Regions from separate parts of the Homo sapiens genome. Here region 2 is linked to region 1. Evidence: fine-mapped expression QTL. A gene starts in region 1. The other region holds a variant in brackets. All regions are shown on one strand. Distances are from middle to middle. Region 1 holds the start of NTAQ1 (N-terminal glutamine amidase 1). Region 2 overlaps NTAQ1 (N-terminal glutamine amidase 1).

Evidence for each region.
Region 2: its variant is fine-mapped to the expression of NTAQ1 in whole blood (INTERVAL, PIP above 0.99).

Annotation. Positions count from the first base shown.
Region 1 is chr8:123,412,458-123,420,789 of GRCh38, forward strand. NTAQ1 (N-terminal glutamine amidase 1) reads left to right here and starts at 4,317. Exons shown (of 6, transcript NM_018024.3): 1 at 4,317-4,475. The coding sequence starts at 4,393. It also overlaps a transcript of ATAD2 not described here. RefSeq lists silencers at 1,778-1,978, 3,896-4,375, 4,486-4,685, 5,006-5,055 and an enhancer at 4,489-5,083.
Region 2 is chr8:123,441,631-123,449,962 of GRCh38, forward strand. NTAQ1 (N-terminal glutamine amidase 1) reads left to right here. Exons shown (of 6, transcript NM_018024.3): 6 at 1-610. Among named protein-coding and RNA genes, the nearest start is that of NTAQ1, 29 kb to the left of the region's middle. The variant C/T (reference allele first, on the strand shown) is at 4,780.

The sequences.
Region 1 (8,332 bases):
GGTCTCACTCTGTTGCCCAGGCTGGAGTGCAGTGGCGTAATCACAGTTCACTGCAGCCTCAAACTCCTGGGCTCAAGCAATTCTTTTGCTTCAGCCTCCTGGGTGCCTAGGACTACAGATACCACCATGCCTGGCTAATTAAAAAAAATTTTTTTTTTGTAGAGACAGGGTCTTGCTGTGTTGCTTAGGTTGGTCTCAAACTGACCTCAAGCGATCCTCCCGCCTTGGTCTCCCAAAGTTCTAGGATTACAGGGGTGAGCCACTACACCTGGCCTATGTAGTTGTTTATTACGTAGGGTACTGAGTACTGCAGAACTCTCAGCACAACTTGGTTCCAAATCCCTGCACTAACAGACTTGACCAAACTCTAGCATGGCTTCTAGCAGTATAAGGCTATGTCAGCCTTCTCCCCCAAACCCCCCATTAAAATGCCTGCTTAAGAAAGCTCAAAGCTCCCAGGAAAATTTACTATTTGTTGTTGCCAGTACCTGATGATAGGCCCCTGACCTCCTTTTCTTAGAGCATTTACTAAAAGGGCTTAGAATTGTAAATATGTATTACTTACAACTCAGAAGTCCTTCTCAAGGACTTAGAGAGCCATTCCTTTGAAATGTAATCATCAGGAAGGATAGGGCCTCTGACTCCCAGTCTCTGTGGGAGGATAGAATCCTAACTTAGATAACTGCCAGCTAGCAGACACGACTGGCCTAATGGTATTTACACTGACCAACCCTTTGTAATTTTCACTTCCCTGGCTCTAATGAGCGCCCCCCCCCCCCCAACTCCTCCCTGCTTCCTCATTCTTCTTTCCAAATGCCCAAATTACCTCTGCACAATTGGAATGGAGCTCAGCTCTTTCCCCTACTGTCAATAGTTGCTGAATAAAATCTGTTTTCATCGCTTTGACTGATGGTCAACGGCTATGTTTATTTTTGACAGTACCTATGTTCTGCCAGGCACTATGCTAAGTGTTTTGCAGAGATTAGTTTATTTAATTTTCACTGCAGCACCCATTAGATAAGCACTCTACTATTATTATCCTCATTTTGCAAAGAAACTGACGCTCAGAAATCCTAGTGTTACTTATCCAAGGTCACTCAGGGTAGTAAGTAGCCAAGATAAGATTTGAGTGTGTTTCTGACTACAGCACTATTTATACTATTCTACCTCTCAGGGCAAGACCCATGCCCTGGAAGAGCTCATGGCAGAGGTAGAGACAGATTGAGTTGCTGAGCATGCTACTGCTTTTCAAGACATATGAATAAAAGTTGTGACAAAACAGGAAAAAAAGCTCCAGGAAGATGGAAGCCAACAATAAACTCTTCCTGGGAAAAGCTGCAAATAAGGCATGTGAAAGAATGCATCAGACAGAGTGTACATACATCTTGTGCAAAGGCTTGGGGTATCAAAGGAAGAATAAGACACTCAGTGACAAGAGTATGGCGGCGGGGAGGGTGGCCGAGGCGGGCAGATCACTTGAGGTCAGGAATTTGAGACCAGCCTGGCCAACATGGTGAAACCTCACCTCCACAAGAAAATACACAATTTAGCTGGGGTGGTGGGGGCGGAGGTTGCAGTGAGTCAAGATTGCACCACAGCACTCCAGCCTGGGCGACAGAGTGAGACTCTTATCTCAAAAAAAAAAAAAAAAAAAAAAAAAAAAGTATAGGGTATGCGGGAAATAATGAAATCAGATTTTTTTAACAAAAAATCATAGTTGCTAACATTTATATTATATGCTACCAACTATTCTAAGTACTTTATATACATAAACTCAACTAATCCTCATAATGACCCTATGAGGTAGTAGCATTATCTTTAACTTCATTTTACAGATGAGGAAAGTGAGACACAGAAGAGTGAAGTAACTTTGCCCAAGGTGACCCAACTGGCAAGTTGTAGAACCTACCCAGCCTAGCTTCAAAGTCCTATAGTAAGTAGTTTGTGCCCAATCAGGATAAGAAACTACACAGTAGGTCAAGCAAGGGAAGTTAAATGTAAAGAACTATTAATTATGTTAGCTGCGCACGGTGGTGCGTGCCTGCAGTCTCAGCTACTCAGGAGGCTGAGGCTGGAGGATCACTTGAGCCCAGGAGTTTGAGGCTGTAGTGAGCTATGATTGCACCACTGCACTCCAGCCTGGGTGACAGAGGGAGACCCTGTCCCCCACCAAAAAATTATTATTAACTATGATAAAGGCATAACGATAACACATAAGGAAACTCTATTCAGTACCTTACCGTATAGAAGGTAGGGTTAGGGAGGACCCTGGTTTTTGTGTCAAGAGGCTGAAGAAAGGTTATTGCCAGGCTAAACCTGCAAGGTTAGGAAGGGACCATGTTCTGAGTCTGGGGCTGGGGCAGACTCCACAAGGATGTTCTCACCACTACACCTGTCCCACTCACTTTAAATGGAGCATTTAGACCATTTACATTCAATGTTAGGATTGACTTGTGAGGTACCATTCCATTCATCGTGCTTTGTTGCCTGTGTACCTTGTTTTTTTTTGTTGTTTTTTAAATTGTATTTTTGTTGTATAGGTCCTGTGTGATTTATGCTTTAACGAGGTTCTGTTTTGATGTGTTTCCAGGATTTGTTTCAAGATTTAGAACTCCTTTTAGCAGTTCCTGTAGTGGTGGCTTGGTAGTGGCAAATTCTCTCACCATTTGTCTGAAAAAGACTGTATCTTTCCTTAATATATGATGCTTAGTTTCGCTGGATACAAAATTATTGGCTGATAATTGTTTTGTTTGAGGAGGCTAAAGATAGGGCCCCAATCCCTTCTAGCTTATAGGGTTTCCCACTCACTTTAAAGGAGAAATGTTTACCAGAGTTGTTATATAGCATAGAGGCTATGTGGAAGTTTGTATTAGGAGCTGAGAGGCAATAAAATTGGTAATTGACACAGGAACTGTGCTCCAAGTCTTTAGGATTTATCAGCTTTGAGACTGAAGAGATTGGAGAATCCAACTGTGGATGGCTAAAATCAATGTAAACATCTCAGTTTTTATAATGGGAAGTACCCTGATTAGCTAGCTATGCTCATTGCAAATATAAACAATTCAGAAGACTGTAAAGTGTAAAGACCTTGAAACTGAAAGTCCCTGATATTAATATCATTCATTCACCAGAGATAAACACTATTTTTTTTTTTTGAGACGGAGTCTCACCCTGTTGCCCAGGCTGGAGTGCAATGGCACCATCTCGGCTCACTGCAACCTCCGCCTCCCGGGTTCAGGCGATTCTCTTGCCTCAGCCTCCCGAGTATCTGGGATTACAGGCGCGCGCCTCCACGCCCAACTAATTTTTGTATTTTTAGTAGAGACGGAGTTTCACCATGTTGGCCAGGCTCGTCTCGAACCCCTGACCTCGTGATCCACCCGCCTCGGTCTCCCAAAGTGCTGGGATTACAGGCGTGAGCCACCGCACCCGGCCCTAAACACTATTTTAACAATATGGTGTCTTTTCTTCCAGACTGCCAGTAATTGAACAAAATATATGATTAACACAAAAAGGATACCATATGGACTCTTTAAACTTTTTTTTTTCAAATTTACTGTATCAGGGAATTAATATATCTTTTCGAGCCAATAGCTACAGGCCTTCCAATTTAAAAGATTAAGTTACAATAGAGTGAGATTTGGGGTGCTATCCCTTTCGGAAAGCGTCCTCGATGCGGTCATATTGGAATTAACCTCCACTCCCCTCTTCTCTGGGCTCCCGCAGACTCCAGGCTGAGTGCAGAAGCGTGGATTTTCACACCCAAACCTCTGTTATTTCAGTGTCTCACCTGGCTTCTCCACAGCGCAGAAGCTCAGCCCCTGGTTGGAAGAGCCTCCCCGCGGAGATTCACAGCAAAGCGCCATTCAGGGCCCAACTCCAAGCCCAAACCTAGCTCCTCCCCAAGCCGCCGCCAGAGACCCCTCTTCTCCCAAAGCTCACCGGGGCCCCGCCCCTGACTCCGCCCACCAGAGCCCGGTCCTCCAGTCCCGCCCCATCCCGGGCCCCACCCACCAGCCGGGCTCCGCCTACCCGGAAGCGCGCTGTCCTCCTCGTCCCGGGCTCCGCCCACCGGGAGTTCGCGCCACTCACCCCACCCCGGACCCGCCCACTTCGCTTGGGCTCCACCCTCCCAGGAACTGGCGCCGCTTGCCCCGAGCTCCGCCTACTTCGTCCCGGGCTTCCCGCGCCGGGAACTCGTGCTGCTAGTCCCGCCCTGGCCCCGCCCACCGCGCTACTGGCCCCACCACCCGGAAACTGCCCCGGCCCTCTCCCCCCGGGCTCCGCCCACCCCACGCCGGGAACCCACGCGGGCCACTACAAGCCCGCCCTTTCCTACGTCTGGTCCAGTCGGTCTTCCTCCGGCCCGGGCCCTGGCCCAGCTAGCCGGCCATGGAAGGTAATGGCCCCGCTGCTGTCCACTACCAGCCGGCCAGCCCCCCGCGGGACGCCTGCGTCTACAGCAGCTGCTACTGGTGAGGGGGCGCGGGCGCAGCCTCTGGGTCTCCCAGGCTCCCGGGCGGCGAGTCGCAACCGGGCCCCGCCTCTTCCCGGCCCCTCCTCGGGGGCGCTCCCGGCCTCTACCGGCGGGTTCTACAGTTTTGCGGGAGGAGGGAGCGGGAATGGCAGCTCTCGTCTCTTGAGTAGAGCGTGGGCTATTGGATGGGGTTGGGAATTCGTCCGGAATCATAGGGTCGATAGTGCATTACCTGTGCCTGGCGCTTGTCGGTTGGATTTGCTCAGCAGATCTCTGCTTCGGGGCCAGGAAGGGTGGAGCTCTGAAAATCTTTGGGGGTTACTCTGCTGAAGCCTGTGGGGTTTCAGACTGAGGTGAAGGTCATTTTAATTTTGTAAGAGAATGAAGGCACGGAGAGTTTTTCATACAGCACTTGCTATATGCCACGCGTTGTTCTGGGTGGTTTAGGTAAACTAAATCACTGAGCATCACAATAACCGTAAGAGGTAGGTATTGTTATCCCCAGTTGAAAGATGAGAGCACTGAAGCACAGAGGGCTGCAAGTAATTTGCGCAGGGCCACGTAGCTTGTGAATGAAGGAGTGGGGATTTACAGTCAGGGTCTGGCCCCGGAATCCACGCAGTGCACCCCTGTCCTAGGCCACCTCTGCAGCTGAAGTACCGCCCTTGCCTTAGTCCTCATACCTACTCTTTCCTGAGTAATGGCTTCTTCCCCAGCTTCTAGTCCTTGTACAGGAAACCTCAGTGCTATCTAAACCTACTCCTCCCCCTTCTGCTGGTCACTAAACCAATGCCACCAAGAGCTTAACATTTGTTCGGCCCTGATTGCATGTCAGGCTCAGTGGCAGGTGCTTCCATCGATGTCCAGGAGGTACCTTCTTTTATTATCGTTATCCTCATTTTACTAATAAAAAGACTGAGCCACAGAGAGGCTGTTCTGTGCCCCCAAATCACACATCTAGCAAGTGGTGGTGCTGAAACTGGAACCTCTTCGTGATTCTGAAGTTCATGCATCTTAACTACTGCACTATTTTTCTGTCCTGCCTCTCTTCTAAATCCCGTTAGTTCTCCTCCCTAATGTCCAGTCATTGTTTTATTCATTCATTCAATAAATGTTTATTAGGCACTTGGAGTATGTGGCATACTTCTGGGCACTGGGGATATAGCAGTGAACAAAATCGACAAATTCCCTCATGGATCCCTTGGTTCTTTCATTTTGAGAGAAAAGCAGATAAGGCCCGGTGCGATGGCTCACGCCTGTAATTCCAGCACTTTGGGAGGCCGAGGTGGGCGGATCTCTTGAGGCCAGGAGTCTGAGACCAGCCTGGCCGACATGCAGAAACCCTGCCTCTACTAAAAATACAAAAATTAGCCAGGTGTGGTGGCGTGCACCTGTAATCCCAGCTACTCGGGAAGCTGAGGCAGGAAAATCGCTTGAACCTGGGAGGTGGAGGTTCCAGTGAGCTGATGCCACTGCCCCTTCCTGCCTGGGCAACAGAGCAAGACTCCATCTCAAAAAAAAAAAAAAAATAAAAAGCCAAAAAAACAAGTAAACCATGTTTGGGTGATGTTAAATACTATGAGAAAAATAAGATAAAGGATGGTGACTTATCTTCTATTAGGATATTTTGAGAAGACATTGTTGATAAGGTGATATTTGAAAAGAGATCTGAAAAAAGAGGGTGGGAGCTTTGCAACTATTGGAGGATGGTTGTTTAAGCAGGGAGAACAGCAGGTACAAAGGCTCTGAGAAGGAATGGTGCTGTGAGTGTGATAGGAACAGTGAGGAGGCTGGTACAACTGGAGTATTGGAGTTAGAGCAGTCTTGTAGAAGAATGGTAAGAGATGACCACTCTACCACAGAGTTTCTCCATCTTGGCTTGAGTGACATTTTGAGCATGATAATTCCTTGCTATGGAGGCTGTCCTGTGTATTGCAGGACGTGTAGCAGCATCCCTGGCTTCTACCCACTAGATACTGTTAGCACCCTAGCCCTAGTTATGACAACCAAAAATGTCTCCAGACATTGCTAAGTGTCCTGTAGGGGTTGGGGGGCAAAATCGCCTCTTGCTGAGAACCAGTGCTCTACCCTGTCTGAACACATCAGGTGGGGACACCACACTACTTTGGCTCCTGCAGCTTTGGGGGTTTTTTTTTTTTTTTTTTTTTTTTTTTTTTTTTTTGAGACAGAGTCTCAGTCTGTTGCCCAGGCTGGAGTGCAATGATGCCATCTTGGCTCACTGCAGCCTCCACCTCCCAGGCTCAAGCCATTCTTCTGCCTCAGCCTCCTGAGTAGCTGGGACTACAGGCACCCACCACCATGCCCAGCTAATTTTCGTATTTTTAGTAGAGACGGGGTTTCACCACATTGGCTGGGCTGGTCTTGAACTCCTGACCTCAGGTGATCCACCTGCCTCAGCCTCCCAAAATTCTGGGATTACAGGTGTGAGTCACCGTGCCCGGCCATCCTGCAGGTTTTTTAAGTTGAAATGAATGCCTCCTGTCTACTTCTGTTAGCTTCCGTCATGTTAGCTTCCAGATGTTACTTACGCTTCAAGACCCTGCTTAATGATAATAGTGGCAGCCAGTATTTGTTTGGGACTGTGTCGTCAGCAGAGCATTTCTGATTCTGACTTAATTGTTTTGTGTTTTTCAAACAATTGTGGAGTGCCTGCTTTGTGCCAGGGGTCCTCCCCATCTGCATGCATCTCTGACCTCAGCTCATCACTGGGAACCCCTGGAGTGTCCCAACCTTTCTGCTGCCAAGATGATCAGCTGACAGCTTGGGGCAAATCCACAGCCCTCCCTCCCTCCCTCCCTCCCTTCCTTCCTTCCTTTCTTCCCTCCCTCCCTCCCTCCTTCCTTCATTCCTTTCTTCCCTCCCTCCCTCTCTCCCTTTTTTGAGTCCCTTATGCTTTTGTTTAGAGTTTAAAGAACATTTCAGATATTATCCAATCACATATTTTGTTTGAGTTTTTTTCCCTTCCAACTTTTATTTTAGATTTGGGGTTACATGTGCAGGTTTGTTACATGGGTAAAGTGTATGTGTTGGGGGTTTGGTGTACAAATTATTTTGTCACCCAGATAGTGAGCATACTACCAGATAGATAGTTTTGATCCTCACCCTCCTGTCACCCTCTACCCTCAAGTAGGCCCCATGTCTACTGTTTCCTTTTTTGTGTCCATGTGTACTCAAGGTTTAGCTCCCACTTATACGCAAGAATATTCAGTGTTTGCTTTTCTGTCCCTGTGTTAATTCACTTGGGATATTGGCCTCCAGCTCCATCCATGTTGCTGCAAATGACATGATTTTTGTTCTTTGTCATTGCTGTGTAGTATTCCATGGTGGATGATATATACCACATTTTCTTGATCCAGTTCACCATTGATAGGTGCCTAGGTTGATTCTACATCTTTGCTATCATGAATAGTGCTGTGATGAACATATATGTGCATGTGTCTTAATAGTAGGATTTATATTCCTTTGGGTATATACACAGTAATGGGATTGCTAGGTCGCATCATAGTTCTGTTTCAAGTTCTTTGAAAAATCTCCAAACTGCTTTCCACAGTGGCTTAACTAATTTACATTCCCACCAGGAGTGTATAAGCATCCCCTTTTCTCCACCAACTTGCCAGCGTCTGTTATTTTTTGCCTTTTTTTTTTTTTTTTTTTGAGACAGGGTCTCACTCTGTCACCTAGGCTTACAGTGCAGTGGCATGATCATGACTCACTGCAACCTCAACTTCCTGGGCTTAAGTGATCCTCTCACCTCAGCTTCCTAAGTAGCTGGGAGTACAGGTGGGCATCACCACTTTTTTGACTTCTTAAATTATTTTTATTTGTTTATTTTTA
Region 2 (8,332 bases), 29 kb after region 1:
TTGCTAAGATATTCCTGTGGCTCATGCGTTACAACACGAGGACTTAAGCCAGTAATCGTTTTTGTTCAGATAGAGGTGTGGAGGTAGAGCCAGCCCCTCATGTCTGTTTTGGATGTTTTGTGTCTCTCCAGCTACATTGTAAGTTCCTTGAGGGCAGGGCCATGGCCCATTGCTCTGTGAATCTCAAATGCCCATAAAAGGTGCCCATAAAATGTTTTCTTGAACATTTGAATGTGCTGTTGTCTGGAAAGGGGTAATATTGTGAGCTGAATCAGCAATAAGTATTAGTCTTTTTGGACTATGGTATTGTTAAAAAGACTGCAGCCCTCTCAGACTTGAGCGTTAATTGGCTTATTTATTTATGGCTTTAAATAAAATCGATTTAACGTTAGTTTTGTTTTGAAGATTTTTGTGTCACCCTTGATGATCTGAAATACCTAAATATGCCTCAATTGTAGATGAGAACCAGGGCTTTAAAAAATATTTATTACATGTGCCTTCTGGAAGACATCTTGGTTATTTGGCTTTAATCATATCATTCCAAATGAAAGATATTTGGCATTACATTGGCATATAGTACCAGCTCTCATGTTTTCATGATTCTACTTTAAAAATGAACAACTTCTTATAGCAAGGATGTCTGACCTTTTGTTCTTAGATGAGCTTTCTACTTATTAAGAAACTATCAGCTGGGCATGGTGGCTCATGCGTGTAATCTCAGCACTTTGGGAGTCCTAGGTGGGCGGATCATGAGGTCAGGAGTTTGAGACCAGCTTGGCCAACGTGGTGAAACCTTGTCTCTACTAAAAATATAAAAATTAGCTGGGTGTGGTGGCGGGCGCCTGTAATGCCAGCTACTTGGGAGGCTGAGGCAGAATTGCTTGAACCTGGGAGGTGGAAGTTGCAGTGAGCTGAGATCATGCTGCTGCACTCCAGCCTGGGTGACAGAGCAAGACTCCATCTCAGAAAAAAAAAAAAAAAGAAAAGAAACTGACATTTAATGGTAATCCTCCACCTTATGGAGGGTACAAATGTAACCATTTATTTATTCATTTAGAGACAGAGTCTTGCTCTGTCACCCAGGCTGGAGTGCAGCGGCACGATCTCGGCTCACTGTAACCTCCACTTCCCAGGTTCAAGTGATTCTCGTGCCTCAGCCTCCTGAGTAGCTGGGATTACAGGTGTGCGCCACCATGCCCAGCGAATTTTTGTATTTTAGTAGAGACGTGGTTTCACCACGTTGGCCAGGCTGGTCTTGAACTCCTGACCTCAGGTGATCTGCCCACTTTCGCCTCCCGAAGTACTGGGATTACAGGCATGAGCCACCGCGCCCGGCCCCCTTCCCTAGAAATTTCTGCATAAACTGCCCTTTAATCTGCATGTTATTTTTATTTACTTATTTATTTTGAGACAAAGTCTCACTCTGTCGCCCAGGCTGGAGTGCAGTGGCATGATCTCGGCTCACTGCAACCTCTGCCTCCCAGGTTCAAACGATTCTCATGCCTCAGCCTCCCGAGTAGCTGGGATTACAGGTGTGTACCACCATGCCCAGCTAATTTTTGTATTTTTAATAGAGACGGGGTTTTGCCATGCTAACTAGGCTGGTATCAAACTCCTGACCTCAGGTGATCTGCCTGGCTCCGCCTCCCAATGTGCTGGGATTACAGGCATGAGCCACCGCACCCGGCCAAATTTGCATGTTATTAAAAGTAGGTATAAATGTGGCTGCCAGACTGCCCGGAGCTGCTCCTGTCTGCCTACAGGGTAAACCTGCTCTGCAGGAGCAGTCACAGGGTTGTAACACTACCGCTTCAATAAAGCTGTTTTCTTTTACCTTCAGCTTGCCCTTGAATTCTTTCCTGGGCAAAGCCAAGAAGTCTCATGGGCTCAGCCCTACTTTGGGGCTTGCCTGCTCTGTATCAGATTGATCTGTGCTTGAAGCCAAGCCCACCTTTTTTGTTTTTGAGACTCTCTTGCTCTGTCACCGAGGCTGGAGAGCACTGGTGTGATCTCTGCTTACTGCAACCTCCACCTCCCAGGCTCAAGCGATCCTCCCACCTCAGCCTTCTGAGTAGCTGGGACTACAGGCGTGCCACAGTGCCCAGCTAATTTTTATATTTTTAGTAGAGATGGGGTTTTGCCACATTGCTCAGGCTGGTCTTGAACTCCGGGACTCAAGCAGTCTGCCCACCTCGGCCTCTGAAAGTGCTGAGATTACAGGTGTGAGCCACTGCGCCTGGCCTGCGGTTCCTGGTTCTATGAGCCAGTGGATTCCTTTTTCTCTTCAGCTTGTGCGAGCTGGATTTCTGTCATTTTTAACTGAAAGATAGGTTTTCTTACAAGATTTTTCTTCAGAGTTGTTTATCGGGCTTAGGAACTGTTATTTATGTCTCTCTGTGCTTAATTTTTCTATTTAAACTTTTTCTTTTTTTTTTTTGAACCCAAACTAAGACAATTTTTCTTTTGAGGTCAGATTTCTTTCTCTTAATATTCAACATGTGTGAGAAGATTTTCTGTATGGAAAGAAGATATTTCAAGAAAAGCAGGGGACTAAAGTAGAATTTTGTTTGTTTGCTTCTTTTTGTTTGAGATGCCGTCTTGCTCTGTTTCCCAGGCTAGAGTGCAGTGGCACAATCTTGGCTCACTGCAACTTCCACCTCCCAGATTTAAGTGACTCTCCTGCCTCCGCTTCCTGAGTTTCTGGGATTACAGGCATGCGCCGCTACACCTGGCTAATTTTTGTATTTTTAGTAGAGATGGGATTTTACCATGTTGGCCAGGCTAGTCTCGAACTCCTGACCTCAAGTAATCCACCCACTTTGGCCTCCCAAAATGCTGGGATTACAGGTATGAACCATAGTGCCTGGCTGACTAAAGCAAAAAATTTTCTTTTTGAGAGGGAGTCTCGCTCTATCGCCCAGGCTGGAGTGCAGTGGCATGATCTTGGCTCACTGCAAGCTCTGCCTCCCGGGTTCACGCCATTCTCCTGCCTCAGCCTCCTGAGTAGCTGGGACCACAGGTGCCCACCACTACGCCCAGCTAATTTCTTTTTATATTTTTAGTGGAGACGGGGTTTCACCGTGTTAGCCAGGATGGTCTCTATCTTCTGCCCTCGTGATCCACTTGCCTCGACCTCCCAAAGTGCTGGGATTACAGGCGTGAGCCACGGTGCCCAGCCTAAAGCAGAATTTGTAAACTGACTATGAAAGCAACAGAAACAGAGTATCTCTGAGAACCTGACACACCAAGGAGTTGGGAAGCAAATATGAAAATATAAAATGGTTCCCAGCTCAGTAGAACTGGCTATCCCTGATTGAAGATATTATTGGAGCTTTTAAGGAAATTATGTCTTTCAGAAGAGGAGTTGGTTAGCAATGGTAGTAAATGCAAACCTTTTTGTGTGTTTTTCTTGGTTTAATTTTTAATTAATTAAAAAATAGATGGTACCATGTACATTGTACCAATTCAAAATGTATAAAAGAGTATTTGGTGAAAAGTAAACTTCCCTCCTGCTTTGTCCTCCAATTTTCTGATGTTCCCACCCAGAAATAACCTCTTTTTCAGGTTATTTTGTATCCTTCTTTCCAGGAATTTTCTATGTAAACATATAGGTATGTATTATATATTAAATTTTGTTTCCCCACCCCCCCGACAAATGGTAGCATCCTAAACATATTGTTCTGTATTTTACTTTTTTCCCTTCACTAAACAAAGAAAAATACATTTTACTTTTTAAAGTTAATATATTTGGATGTTTTCTAGTCAGTACATATTGATTGGAAAATCAACAAGAATGAGAAAATATCTACATTATTTTTAAAGGCTACATTGTATTCTGCGATACATATGGTCCATAATTTAACAGTCCTTTATAAGTTGTTTTTTGCTTCTTGGTGTGCCAAAAAAAATGCTACAATAAATGTTTTTGTTTATGTGTCTTCATAAAAATTTCCAAGGTGAATTTTTAAAAATTTTTTAAGTTTTTTGTTTTTTGAGACAGAGTCGCACTCTGTTGCCCAGGTTGGAGTGCAGTGTTGTGATCTCAGCTCATTGTAGCCTCCGCCTCCCGGGTTGAAGTGATTCTCCTGCCTCAGCCTCCGCATTAGCTGGGATTACAGGCGTGCACCACCACACTTGGCTAATTTTTGTATTTTTAATAGAGACAGGGTTTCACCATGTTGGCCAGGCTGGTCTCGAACTCCTGGCCTCAAGAGATCCGCCTGCCTCAGCCTCCCAAAGTGCTGGGATTACAGGCGTGAGCCACCTCACCCACCCCCAAGATGAATTTTGAAACCATAGGCTGCTGGTTGTCCCACCAAATCCATTCTCTTTTCTTTCCTTTTCCTTTTTCCTTTTTCCTTTCCTTTCCTTTCTTTTTTTCCAGACAGAGTCTCACTCTGTCACCCAGACTGGAGTGCAATGGCACGATCTCAGCTCACTGCAACCTCCGCCTCCCAGGTTCAAGCGATTCTCGTGCCTCAGCCTCCTGAGTAGCTGGGATTACAGGTGCGCTACCACACCTGGCTAATTTTGTGTGTGTGTGTGTTTTTATTATAGTAGAGACAGAGGTTCACCATGTTGGCCAGGCTGGTCTCAAACTCTGGCCTCAAGTGATTCCCCCCACCTCAGCCTCCCAAAGTGCTGGGATTACAGGCATCAGCCACTGCAACTGGCCCATTCTCTTCTTTTTCTAGAGCAGGAGTTGGCAAATGTTTTCTGTAAATGGCCAAACAGTAAATGTTAGACTTTGCAGGCCATAAGGCCTCTGCCACAACTACT[C/T]AACTCTGCCTTTGTAGCCGAAAACAGCAGCCACAGACAATATGTAAATGAATAGGTGTGGCTGAGCTCCAATAAAACTTTGCAAAACCTGGGTCTCCTTTCTTGTCTTTGGAGCCCTCCTCCCTCTGGAGAGCTTTTTCCTTCTTTCTTCTCTCTTCTTTCTTGCCTTTTAAACACTCTGCTCCTTAAAACCACTCCAACTGTGTCTGTGTTGTTTTATCCAATTCGCGCAAGACGAGCCCTGGTGCTCCTCCACTCATCGGAGCCGTATCAGTGCCATCTTCAAAGCAGAGACCAAGTCCTCACCAGACAACATAATCTGCTCAGCCCTGATCTTGGACTTACAGCCTCCGCAACAGACTCTGCTCCAACTATGAACTTAGGAAGTTAAGGAAAAACATGGATTTCTTTTTCCAACTAGAAGCTGGACATCCTAAGTGATTGGTTGGAGGAGTATGTTTGGTTTTCTCTGTCTGGTTCCATGTTGAAAGTAAGAACAACAACAACATGGGGGAAGCCTGCAAGTTTTGACCACGTCCTGATCTCTCCATGCTGATTGCCGCCGAGCTGGGGGTCAGGGTTCTGTTATCATCTGTGCCCTGTTCATTGTCTGCTTGAATATTCTGTCTGTCTATCTATAGAGAGGAAGAACAATAACCTTCATTATCAGAAACCTCATTCTAAGTTTACTTTTCTGTCTAGGTGTCCTTGTACTTTTTAAATATATAAATATGCTTTTTCACTGAGTAGCAATAGAAGTAGTATTTTTGCTAGGCTTGAGTTGCTTACTATTAAAAAAAATTATACTTACATATTTATAATAAAACCTAATCTTAGGCTCAGATGCACATACAACTAAAGAGCAGTGCTTGTCTTTTGCTTAATGTTCATATTACAAGGTTAACTTTTATTTATAATTAATATATGAACGTGTTCTTTTTTAAAAAATACACAATGTGATGGATAAATCTAATGTCCTTTTTGATAATCACCCTGGTTTTAAGAATATAACTGTCTAGAGAAACTAACTAATAGAGCTCATTGTGTATTATCTAGAAGTCATTGTATGCCAGGCAATTTTCTGACAATCTGATGGGGTTGGCACTATTTTTAATCCCTATTTTACAGATGAGGAAACTGATGCAGAGAGAGGTTTTCATATAGCTCACCAAGTCACTAGCCAGTAAGTAGTAGAGCCAGGATTCAAATTAAGGAAAAAAAGCACCTGAGAAGCTTCCTGCTGCTTTCTGATCACCTCCTTACTCGCTAAGGGTAACCACCATCCTGCTTTCTAACTGCATACATTCATTGTGCCTCTTTCTGTATTTTATATAATTTCATATAAAAATATGTTTGTATATGGCAGAAAAAAATAACAAAAAACAAAAAACAACTCTGCAAAACCAAGAGCTGGTAGATTTGGCCCTTGGGCTGTAGTTTGCTGTCCCTTGTTCTACAGCAACAGAGCTGTGACTGGTGTGTGGCTGCTCTGCCATGGACTACATTTCCCATTCTCCTTTGCAGCCAGTGTGGCCATGTGACCAGCTGAATATAAGAGGAAGTGTGTGTGCCACTTACATGACTGACCTGTGAAACTCGTGCCCACTCCTTCACACCTTTGCCTACTTTCTTACCAGATGAAATGGTGATGACTGGAGTGACCTCGGAAGCTACTTATCAAAGGCAGAAGAGCCACCATCAGCCTGGATTCCTGATAACTCTATGGAGCCGAGTTGCATGCCTGCCTAAATAGTATATTGTGGAACTCTTTCATAGGAGACAAACTTATGTATTTTTTAAGTCACAGAATTCTTGGTGAGTTTTGATTTGGCCATTTAGTCCTCCCTAAATAATTCAGTGCCCATTCAAGCATGTAACGATATTTTTAGCTGGGTCAGAAATAAGAATTTGTGGTGTTCCAGGCCGGGTACGGTGGCTCACGCCTGTAATCCCAGCACTTTGGAAGGCCAAGGCGGGTGGATCACTTGAGGTCAGGAGTTCGAGACCAGCCTGGCCAACAGGGTGAAACCCCATCTCTCCCCAAAATACAAAAATTAGCCAGGTATGGTGGCGCATGCCTGTAATCCCAGTTACTCGGGAGGCTTGAGTATCACTTGAGATATTGCTTGAACCCGGGAGGTGGAGGTTGCAGTGAGCCAAGATTGCACCACTGCACTCCAGCCTGGGCGACAAGAGTGAGACTCCGTCGAAAAAGAATAAGAAGAATTTGTGGTGTAAGCCTCTGTGTCCTTGCGCAGACTGCCCCCTTAGTGTCCCACAGTTTTTGTGGAATTACTGCCCTTCCCAGAATGTTCACAAACCCTGAACACAGACGTCTATCCAGTCCTGTTGTTTTGCATGAGGTTCAGGAGCCTTGTGGGAAAGAAGCCAAATGGTCTGTGTTCTCATTTAGGGTTCAGACGTTTATAGGCTTGTCCCGTGGGCTAGAGGTCCTCAAAGATGTCTTTGCTAGAGGAGAGAAAAACATGAACAGGTCCCTGAGAGAAAATCAATGTAAGTGAAGATGACATCTGGCTGAGAGGACCAGACTAGATGATTATACATTAGAGTGTTCCTTGATGGCAGGTGCCATGAGAGATGTGCCACGGTGCACCCTTACCTGTACTCTCTTACTCTCTTGAAAGCCCTGTCTCCTGGGAAGGAAAGAAAGAACTGTGTCACTGGGGGCCCCATGTGGCTCTGTGGGAGCCTTGGAGGTAGCTGCTGATTTTCCGTAGAACAGTGGACAGCAGTGTTCTGACTGAGTCTGGTATTTTGGTGGTTGACAGCAGTACACACCATGACCAGTGGCTGGCTCAGTAGTGAAGCAGAAGCATGAGGAAGCCTGCAGGCTGTGGTTTGGATTCTCTTTGAGTCCCTTTTTCATCAGGATTTGAAAGAGAAAATGATTTACACAGGACTCTCAGACTGGTAGGGGCTTGTGTACATTCAGCATATAGCAATTAACAGCTTGATGATTTGCAGAAATTCTTCATGGAGGATGCTTATTTAAAAGAGCTGGAGGGCTGCGTGTGGTGGCTCATGCCTATAATCCCAGCACTTTGGGAGGCTGAAGTGGGCAGATCACTTGAGGCCAGGAGTTCAAGACCTCTACTGTTGCTGTATCACTGCCCTGGTGATTCAGCAGTGAGTCCTGCGCTCATGGATATTACATTCTTGTGGAGAAGACAGACAATGAACTTCTACAATGTGTGGAAGATTGGTTGCTATTTACTGAGTTGGGGAAGATTGTGGGTGGAGTAATTTTGGGGAGGAAGATCAGGAGTTTTACTGGGGGCATGTTAAATTTGAGGTGCCAGTTGGATGTCTAACAGGAGCTGTCAAATAGGAGTTGGTAGCCGGGTGTGGTAGGCGGAGGTTGTAGTGAGCCTGAGATCACATCACTGCACTCCAGCCTGGGCGACAGAGTGAGACTCTGGCTCGCTGCTTTCTCTCTCTCTCTCTCTCTCTCTCTCTCTCTCTATCTCTCCATATGTATATATGTGTGTGTATATATATATGTGTGTGTGTGTGTGTGTGCATATATATATAT